Linked DNA regions of Homo sapiens. The protein of the gene in region 1 interacts with the protein of each later gene in a pairwise test. Each region holds a gene or a part of one and is shown on either strand. Other genes may lie near its edges. The genes, in order: CDH6 and TRPV2.

Region 1 (3,826 bases):
CAACCATTGTGGAAGTCAGTGTGGCGATTCCTCAGGGATCTAGAACTGGAAATACCATTTGACCCAGCCATCCCATTACTGGGTATATACCCAAAGGACTATAAATCATGCTGCTATAAAGACACATGCACACGTATGTTTATTGTGGCATTATTCACGATAGCAAAGACTTGGAACCAACCCAAATGTCCATCAATGATAGACTGGATTAAGAAAATGTGGCACATATACACCATGGAATACTATGCAGCCATAAAAAATGATGAGTTCATGTCCTTTGTAGGGACATGGATGAAATTGGAAATCATCATTCTCAGTAAACTGTCGCAAGAACAAAAAACCAAACACCGCATATTCTCACTCATAGGTGGGAATTGAACAATGAGATCACATGGACACAGGAAGGGGAATATCACACTCTGGGGACTGTTGTGGGGTGGGGGGAGGGGGGAGGGATAGCATTGGGAGATATACCTAATGCTAGATGACGAGTTAGTGGGTGCAGCGCACCAGCATGGCACATGTATACATATGTAACTAACCTGCACAATGTGCACATGTACCCTAAAACTTAAAGTATAATAATAAAAAATAAATAAAAAAAAAAAAGGACCTGCCTGAAACATCTCTCTCTCTCTCTCGCTTTATAAAAAAGCAGGTAAATCAGAGAGGGAAAATGTGGAACTGATATTTATCACAAGGCCACACTAATAGAATTAATCTTTTATGAAACACTGACAATATCTCTACTAGATACTTTTAAACAAGTAGCTTAATACAAGAATAATTGTTGGGAGAAAAGTCGCTGAACTTGGTTCAAATGAGGAGTCAGCAGTAATGTAACAGTCAAGGTAGATTTTATCATTTTGCATTGGTAATTAGACTGACCACAAGCCATTTTGATTGGTATTAAATTAGAAACTGTTGCTAAGGGGAGCTTAGAATATTTTGTTGAGTACAAAACTGAGCAGTTGCAAATATATATATATTTTGCATATATATATGTGTGTGTATATATACATATAGTTTTATATATGTCACATATATACACATATATATGTGACATATACATATATGCGTGTATATGTTACATATATACACGCATATATGTATATATGTAACATATATACGCATGTATGTATATATGTGTATATATACATACAGTTGCATATATATATATGTGTGTGTATATATATATATTTTTTTGAGGTGAAGTTTTGCTCTTATCACCCAGGCTGGAGTAGAATGGCGTGATCTGGGCTCACTGCAACCTCCGCCTCCTGGGTTCCAGCGATTCTCCCTCTCAGCCTCCTGAGTAGCTGGGATTATAGGTGCCTGCCACCATATCTGGCTAAGTTTTTTGTATTTTTAGTAGAGATGGGGTTTCACTATGTTGGTCAGGCTGGTCTCAAACTCCTAACCTCAGTTGATCCGCCTGCCTTGGCCTCCCAAAGTGCTGGGATTAGAGGCATGAGCCACCATGCCCGGCCTGCAAATATTTTAAAGTGGATGCTAGTAGATTAATGAGACTCTCTTTCTTTTTTAATTCTGCAAAAGGAGATTTAAGCTTTGCAGTTAAAAATACGATAAGCTCATTTTAATGACTGAAATCTATACTATACACTAGAAGGCAATTGCTTTTTGAAGTAAAAATGTATATCTCAAAACACAGACCAACATGTTAGTAAATTTTTGTCTACAATTATACAAAGTTCACTTTTAGAAAAAAAAAGACACTGATTTTATAATTTATATGGTTAAGGTGGGCTGTGTTTGTTCCGGCTTATAGAGTTAGATATAAATTTAAAACTTTTCATTTCCCACTGAATTATCCGCTTTGTAATCAAGTGGGCAAATTCACTATTAATGACACATTCTGGCCATGAGCTTGGCAAAGCATATTTTTTTTGAGGATATGTTAATATGGTCAAAGATCATATTAGTATTCCAAATGTTAGTATTAATCTCTGTAAGTTTTAATTAAGAGACCCAAGGATACCTTTTCATTAAATGGCTTTTGTTTAGTTTGTCTTTTTGGTGTTTTAAATATAATTATAATTCCCCTTTACTTTTTGTTCATCCAGATAAGAAGGAAGAGAACCAGGTCAATCATTTCTCAACATGATGTCAGTCATTGTATTAAACCAGTGGTCCCCAGACTTTTGGATTTCATGGAACATTAACAGTTTTATTTTTTAAAGGGGAGAGGATTGACATTGAGTTACTTGCCAAATTTAAATTTTGCCAAGGAAAGAGCCATCATAATCTTTCCCCATATTTCCATGAAAGAATTGACATTTTAACTTCAAAGCAGTGGGAAGGTTACTGTCTGATTTCTTTAAATCAAATAAATTGAGATTTATGAGACACACAATAGGTTGTCATCATTTCTCATATCTAACCACTGACCAATGATTTTTTTTATTTCAAAGATGGATACAACTTTGGGTCTCCTGGGGAATCACTGATTTAGATAAGGTTTACTCAAAACTGCCATCAATCCATTACAAATAAAACAAAACCCCAAACCTTATCATATGTCTCCCTAGCAATGGTCAATATTTTGAGGGAAAATATTAATTCTTCTTTGCAATAGGAAATTTGCAAAATGTAGGAACACACAAAATTCTTAAAGAAGCCTACATCCTTATCTTCACCGCAAGTATCCACATTTGTCCCTTCACAGAATAATTATAAATAATAATATTCTTTATTTAAATTTCCTCTTTAATTTTTAATGCCAGAATTAAATGGTGATGATAAAAAGCAATAACATTCAACAACTAGAAATCAAGCCACAGCAGAGAAAGATAGAGATAAGAGAACAAAATAAATCAAATATATCCATGGATAAGTTATTCATCTCTCTGGTCATCAGTTATCTCACAGTTAAATGAAGAGTATTAGATAAAGTCATCTTTAAGCTCCTTCCTGTGTCTCACATTCTCTGATTATATTTCTAATGATCAAACTTTCCTTGAAGGCTAGATTAACTACATGACTTTTTGAATGGCGGCAATAGAAAGAAGAGAATATAATGAAAATGGCTCATCAATGTCAACCATATAAAACGTGACTGTATTAAGAGGGTTTCTTCCTCCCTCCCTTCCTCCCTCTCTCCCTCACTCCTCTCTCTCCCTCCTTCCTTCTCCCAACTTCCCTCCCTTTCTCCTTTCCTCCCTCCCTCTTTCTTTCCTTGCTTTTGTGGCGATTGTTTTCTGGTGGCATGGTAGTGGTGTGTATATGTGTGTGTGTGTGTGTGTGTGTGTGTGTGTATGTATGTGTGAAATTTTACTTGGTAAATCATTCAGAACAAATACCAAATTGTGATAGTAATGAAGTAACAAAATAAATGTGGTCATAAAAAATTATTTTTACTTACTAGATGAAGAAGGACACAAACACTATCTTACTTAGCTCTACCCAGAGTCCCAAATGCTACATCCATGGTAATGTCAACGAGCTGAGAATGGACTGATGCCCTTAGTGGGTGCTGTGAGGTTGAGGTGTCCCTCCCCTCTCAATGCAATGAACAGGTGTCATTTTAGCTACCTTCCTGAAATACCCCTTTCCTCATAAAGATCCCTCTGAAGGCAGGATAAGATAATTTATTCTCATATAAAAAGTACCATCATTATGTTCATAAAAATGGCCCACACAATGCTTTCTACTACAATTATAAATTCTGACACATGCTTGCAGATGATTTTTCAAAAATGAATAACTTAAAAACATCTTCCTGAGCCTTCACATCTGCCAAGCTCTGGTCAAAATAATCAAATCATTCCCATGCCCTCTGCTGCTCTGTAGTTCTCAGAGAGAGTCA
Region 2 (3,826 bases), on another chromosome or scaffold:
CTGTGGCCTTCCTTGAACTCCTCAAATGGCAGATTGATCCCTAGCCCTGGGGTCCTTGAGGCCCCTGAGATCAGAGTCTACTAGCTGTATCTGTGTGTGCACTTTCGCGGTCAGAATCTAGAATTTTCAACAGACTAGAAAGTGGTCCCTAATCCAAACAGGTTAGGAAGCAGTCTGGTTTCACGCGTGAGGAATGGGAAAGGAGGAACAGATCAGGACACTGCTTTCATAGGCCACACAGCAGTGCCTCTAGACAAGAAAGTGAGGTTCACACACCCCAGGGAGCACTCCAAAAAACTTGGGAGGGCAGCGAAAAAGGGTTAAAACTTCTATTTATGTTTATCGTTTCCTTAATCTTTCAAAAATCTCCACTGTAAGCCCATGAGGCCAGCCCTGGTGAGCTATTGGCAAAAGCTATTTGGAACAGGCCATTGGTAAGCTATCTGGAACAAAGTGGGGGCTGCCTCATGTTTACTCTTCCTACCAGAATAACTTCCAGCTAGTCAAAGCTCTAGGCATTAAAAATGCAGCTGCAGGCTGGGCGTTTCGGCTCATGCCTGTAATCTCAGCACTTTGGGAGGCTGAGGCAGGTGGATCACCAGAGGTCGGGAGTTTGAGACCAGCCTGACCAACATGGAGAAACCCCGTCTCTACTAAAAATACAAAATTAGCCGGGCGTGGTGGCACATGCCTGTAATCCCAGCTACTCGGGAGGCTGAGGCAAGAGAATCGCTTGAACTCCGGAGGCGGAGGTTGCAGTTAGCCGAGATCGCGCCATTGTACTCCAGCCTGGGCAACAAGAGCGAAACTCCATCTCAAAAAAAAAAAAAAAAAAATGCAGCTGCAAAAGTTTGGAAGAAAATATGGGTATGAAGATTATATATATACTATATATAATTATAATGTATAATATAATGTATAATAGTTATAACATATATTATGTACATATAATATGTATTATATATATAAAATCTTGTAGCAGGAATTAGACAATAGCAAAACCATGGAACCTTAAAGGAAAAGATAGTCACACTTGCAGATTATAAAAATTTTTAAATCCTGTATAGCAAAAAAAACATAAAATTCAAAAGACAAATGATGAACTAGGAGAAATTTTACAAGTGCTATGGTAGACAAAATACTAAATTCATTATAAAGTTATCAATAAATATGCAGAAACAGAATAGCAAAATAGGCAAAAGATATAAAAAGGCTATCTCTTAATAAAGAAACACAAACGACTTTTAAAAATTCCCAATGTTTGGCCGGGTGCCATGGCTCACACCTGTAATCCCAGCACTTTGGGAGGCCGAGGTGGGCAGATCACCTGAGGTCAGGAGTTCAAGACCAGCCTGGCCAACATGGTGAAACCCCATCTCTACTAAAAATACAAAAAATTAGCTGGGTGCAGTGGCGCGTGCCTGTAATCCCAGCACTTTGGGAGGCCGAAGCGGGTGGATCACGAGGTCAGGAGTTCAAGACCAGCCTGACCAACATGGTGAAACCCCTCTTTACTGAAAATACAAAAAAAAAATTAGCCAGGCATGGTGGTGGGTGCCTGTAATCCCAGCTACTCAGGGGGCTGAGGCAGGAGAATTGCTTGAACCTGGGAGGCAGAGGTTGCAGTGAGCCGAGATCATGTCACTGCACTCCAGCCTGGGTGACAGAGCGAGGGTCCGTCTCAAAAAAAAAAAAAACAAAATTAGCTGGGTGTGGTGGCACATGCCTGTAATCCCAGCTACTTGGGAGGCTGAGGCAGGAGAATCGCTTGAACCTGGGAAGCAGAGGTTGCGGTGAGCCGAGGTCGCACCATTGCACTCCAGCCTGGGCAACAAGAGCGAAACACCGTCTCAAAAAAAAAAAATCTCAATGTTTTATAATGTAATATATTCAGTAGTTCATATGCAATTTATAAATAAACAGAAATATATCAGAGGTACATACTGAAAATTTTCTTACTAACAGGAGTGTTCCATTGAAAAGCAGAGAAGCCACTGCTCTTCACCACCCCCTGGGTTCTTTCTGCAGAAATTTTGGGATGAGACCTACTGCTTCCTGGAGAGGGGAAGTGGGAAGGGGACAGCCGCTCACCTCGATCTTGCCCTCCTTGGCGGCCAGCTTCAGAGGCGTGAGATCCTGCAGGTTGCGGATGTCCTCAAGCTGCACGGTAGGGCAGAGGCGGGCCCCAGCTTGGAGGAGCCCATCATACATGCTGGTCACCAGTGCAATGTTCTCAGCTGAGTTGTCCGAGATCATCACTAGGGCATGCAGGACTGTGTTGCCCTGGGAGTCAGTGGCCTGCAGGCTGGCGGGCTGGTGTGGGTTCTCCAGGAGGTAGCTTACCACATCCCACTGCTTGGTGCAAGCGGCCAAAGAGAGGGGTAGCTCACCTGCAGGCCAAGAGAGCAGCTTGGGCCCCAGGCCTCCTGCTTTCCATCTGCCTACTCCTCATGCTCCTTGGACAAAAGGCCAGCCCTCCTTGAAACAGGTCAGGCTTCTTTACCACTGAAGGGAGCAGAACAGGGGCCAGCCAACCTGCTGCCTTTTGCTGTCTTCTTTGCCAGAGCCCAGGCATGCTGCCTCTTTATTCAGGCTCTGCCTGGCCAAGTCACATGCCAGTGCTAGCAGCCCCTATTTCTTTCCCTGGGTCTGGGTCTGGGTGCATGCCCGTCTTCTGGCCAGACGAGGATGAAACATCTCTTATGACAAATTAATGCTGGATGTGGTGGCACACACTTGTAGCCCCAGCTCGAGAAGCTAAGGCAGGAGGATTGTTAGAACCCAGGAGTTTGAGGCTGGCCTGGACAAAAGACAAACTGCTTTTGCAGGCAGCCTAGTGGTTAGAAGCAGGGCATCGGGGTCAGAAAAACCTAGGTTTAACTGCCAGCTCTGTCATACACTAACCATGTGACCTTGAACCAGGCCTTACTCTCTCTTTGCCTCGATTTATCCAAGAAAGGCTCACTCACCGAAATAAAAGCAAGTCCCTTGGCCCTTCTGGAAGAAGCGGCCGCAGGCCCGGGCATGCACATTGGCCCCATTCTCCACCAGGAGCTTCACACACTGCAGACTCCTCTTCTCAATGGCGATGTGCAGAGCGCTGTGGCCTCGGTAATAGTCATCTGTGCACTGGGCATTTACCAGGGGCTGAGGATTGCCAGAGTCCCTGTCGATCTGCAGCAGTGGCAGAATGCAGGCATTGACTCCGTCCTTAAGGTTCAGCACAGCCTTCATCAGGCACGTCTTACCTGTGGAGCCCTCTGTGGGAAGAAGGGAGGGGAAGGGGCACAGTGGTGCTGAGACCTGGAGTGGCTGGGCTGCCCGATAGCTCTTATAAGCCCAGCTCAAAGTACCCCTTGGGAGGATTAAAAGAGATGCTACACATAACTGGTGGGAGCACAACCATGTTATAGGCTATTAAGGCTCCAAGTAACAGATAAGAAATACCAACAGACATGACTACAATTTCTGCCCTAGAAACGAAATTTCTTTTTTTTTCTTTTTCTTTTCTTTTCTTTTCTTTTTTTTTTTTTTTTGAGACAGAGTCTTGCTCTGTCACCCAGGCTGGAGTGCAGTGGCGCAATCTTGGCTCACTGCAAGCTCTGCCTCCCAGGTTCACGCCGTTTTCCTGCCTCAGCCTCCCCAGCAGCTGGGACCACAGGCGCACACCGCCACACCCGGCTAATTTTTTTTGTTGTTTTGTTTTGTTTTTTGTTTTCAGCAGAGACGGGTTTTACCGTGTTAGCCAGGATGGTCTCGATCTCCTGATCTCATGATCTGCCCACCTCGGCCTCCCAAAGTGCTGGGATTACAGGCGTGAGCCACT

Evidence for each region.
Region 2: the proteins of CDH6 (region 1) and TRPV2 interact in a protein complementation assay, tested with the Homo sapiens proteins (one study listed by IntAct).

What each region holds. Positions count from the first base shown.
Region 1 is NC_000005.10:31,200,017-31,203,842, reverse strand, and holds part of CDH6 (cadherin-6 isoform 1 preproprotein), read right to left. Parts: intron 2,169-3,826; exon of another isoform or gene 2,085-2,168; intron 1-2,084. UniProt on the Homo sapiens protein: Cadherins are calcium-dependent cell adhesion proteins. They preferentially interact with themselves in a homophilic manner in connecting cells; cadherins may thus contribute to the sorting of heterogeneous cell types.
Region 2 is NC_000017.11:16,422,033-16,425,858, reverse strand, and holds part of TRPV2 (transient receptor potential cation channel subfamily V member 2), read right to left. Parts: intron 3,261-3,826; coding exon 2,970-3,260; intron 2,391-2,969; coding exon 2,092-2,390; intron 1-2,091. UniProt on the Homo sapiens protein: Calcium-permeable, non-selective cation channel with an outward rectification. Seems to be regulated, at least in part, by IGF1, PDGF and neuropeptide head activator. May transduce physical stimuli in mast cells.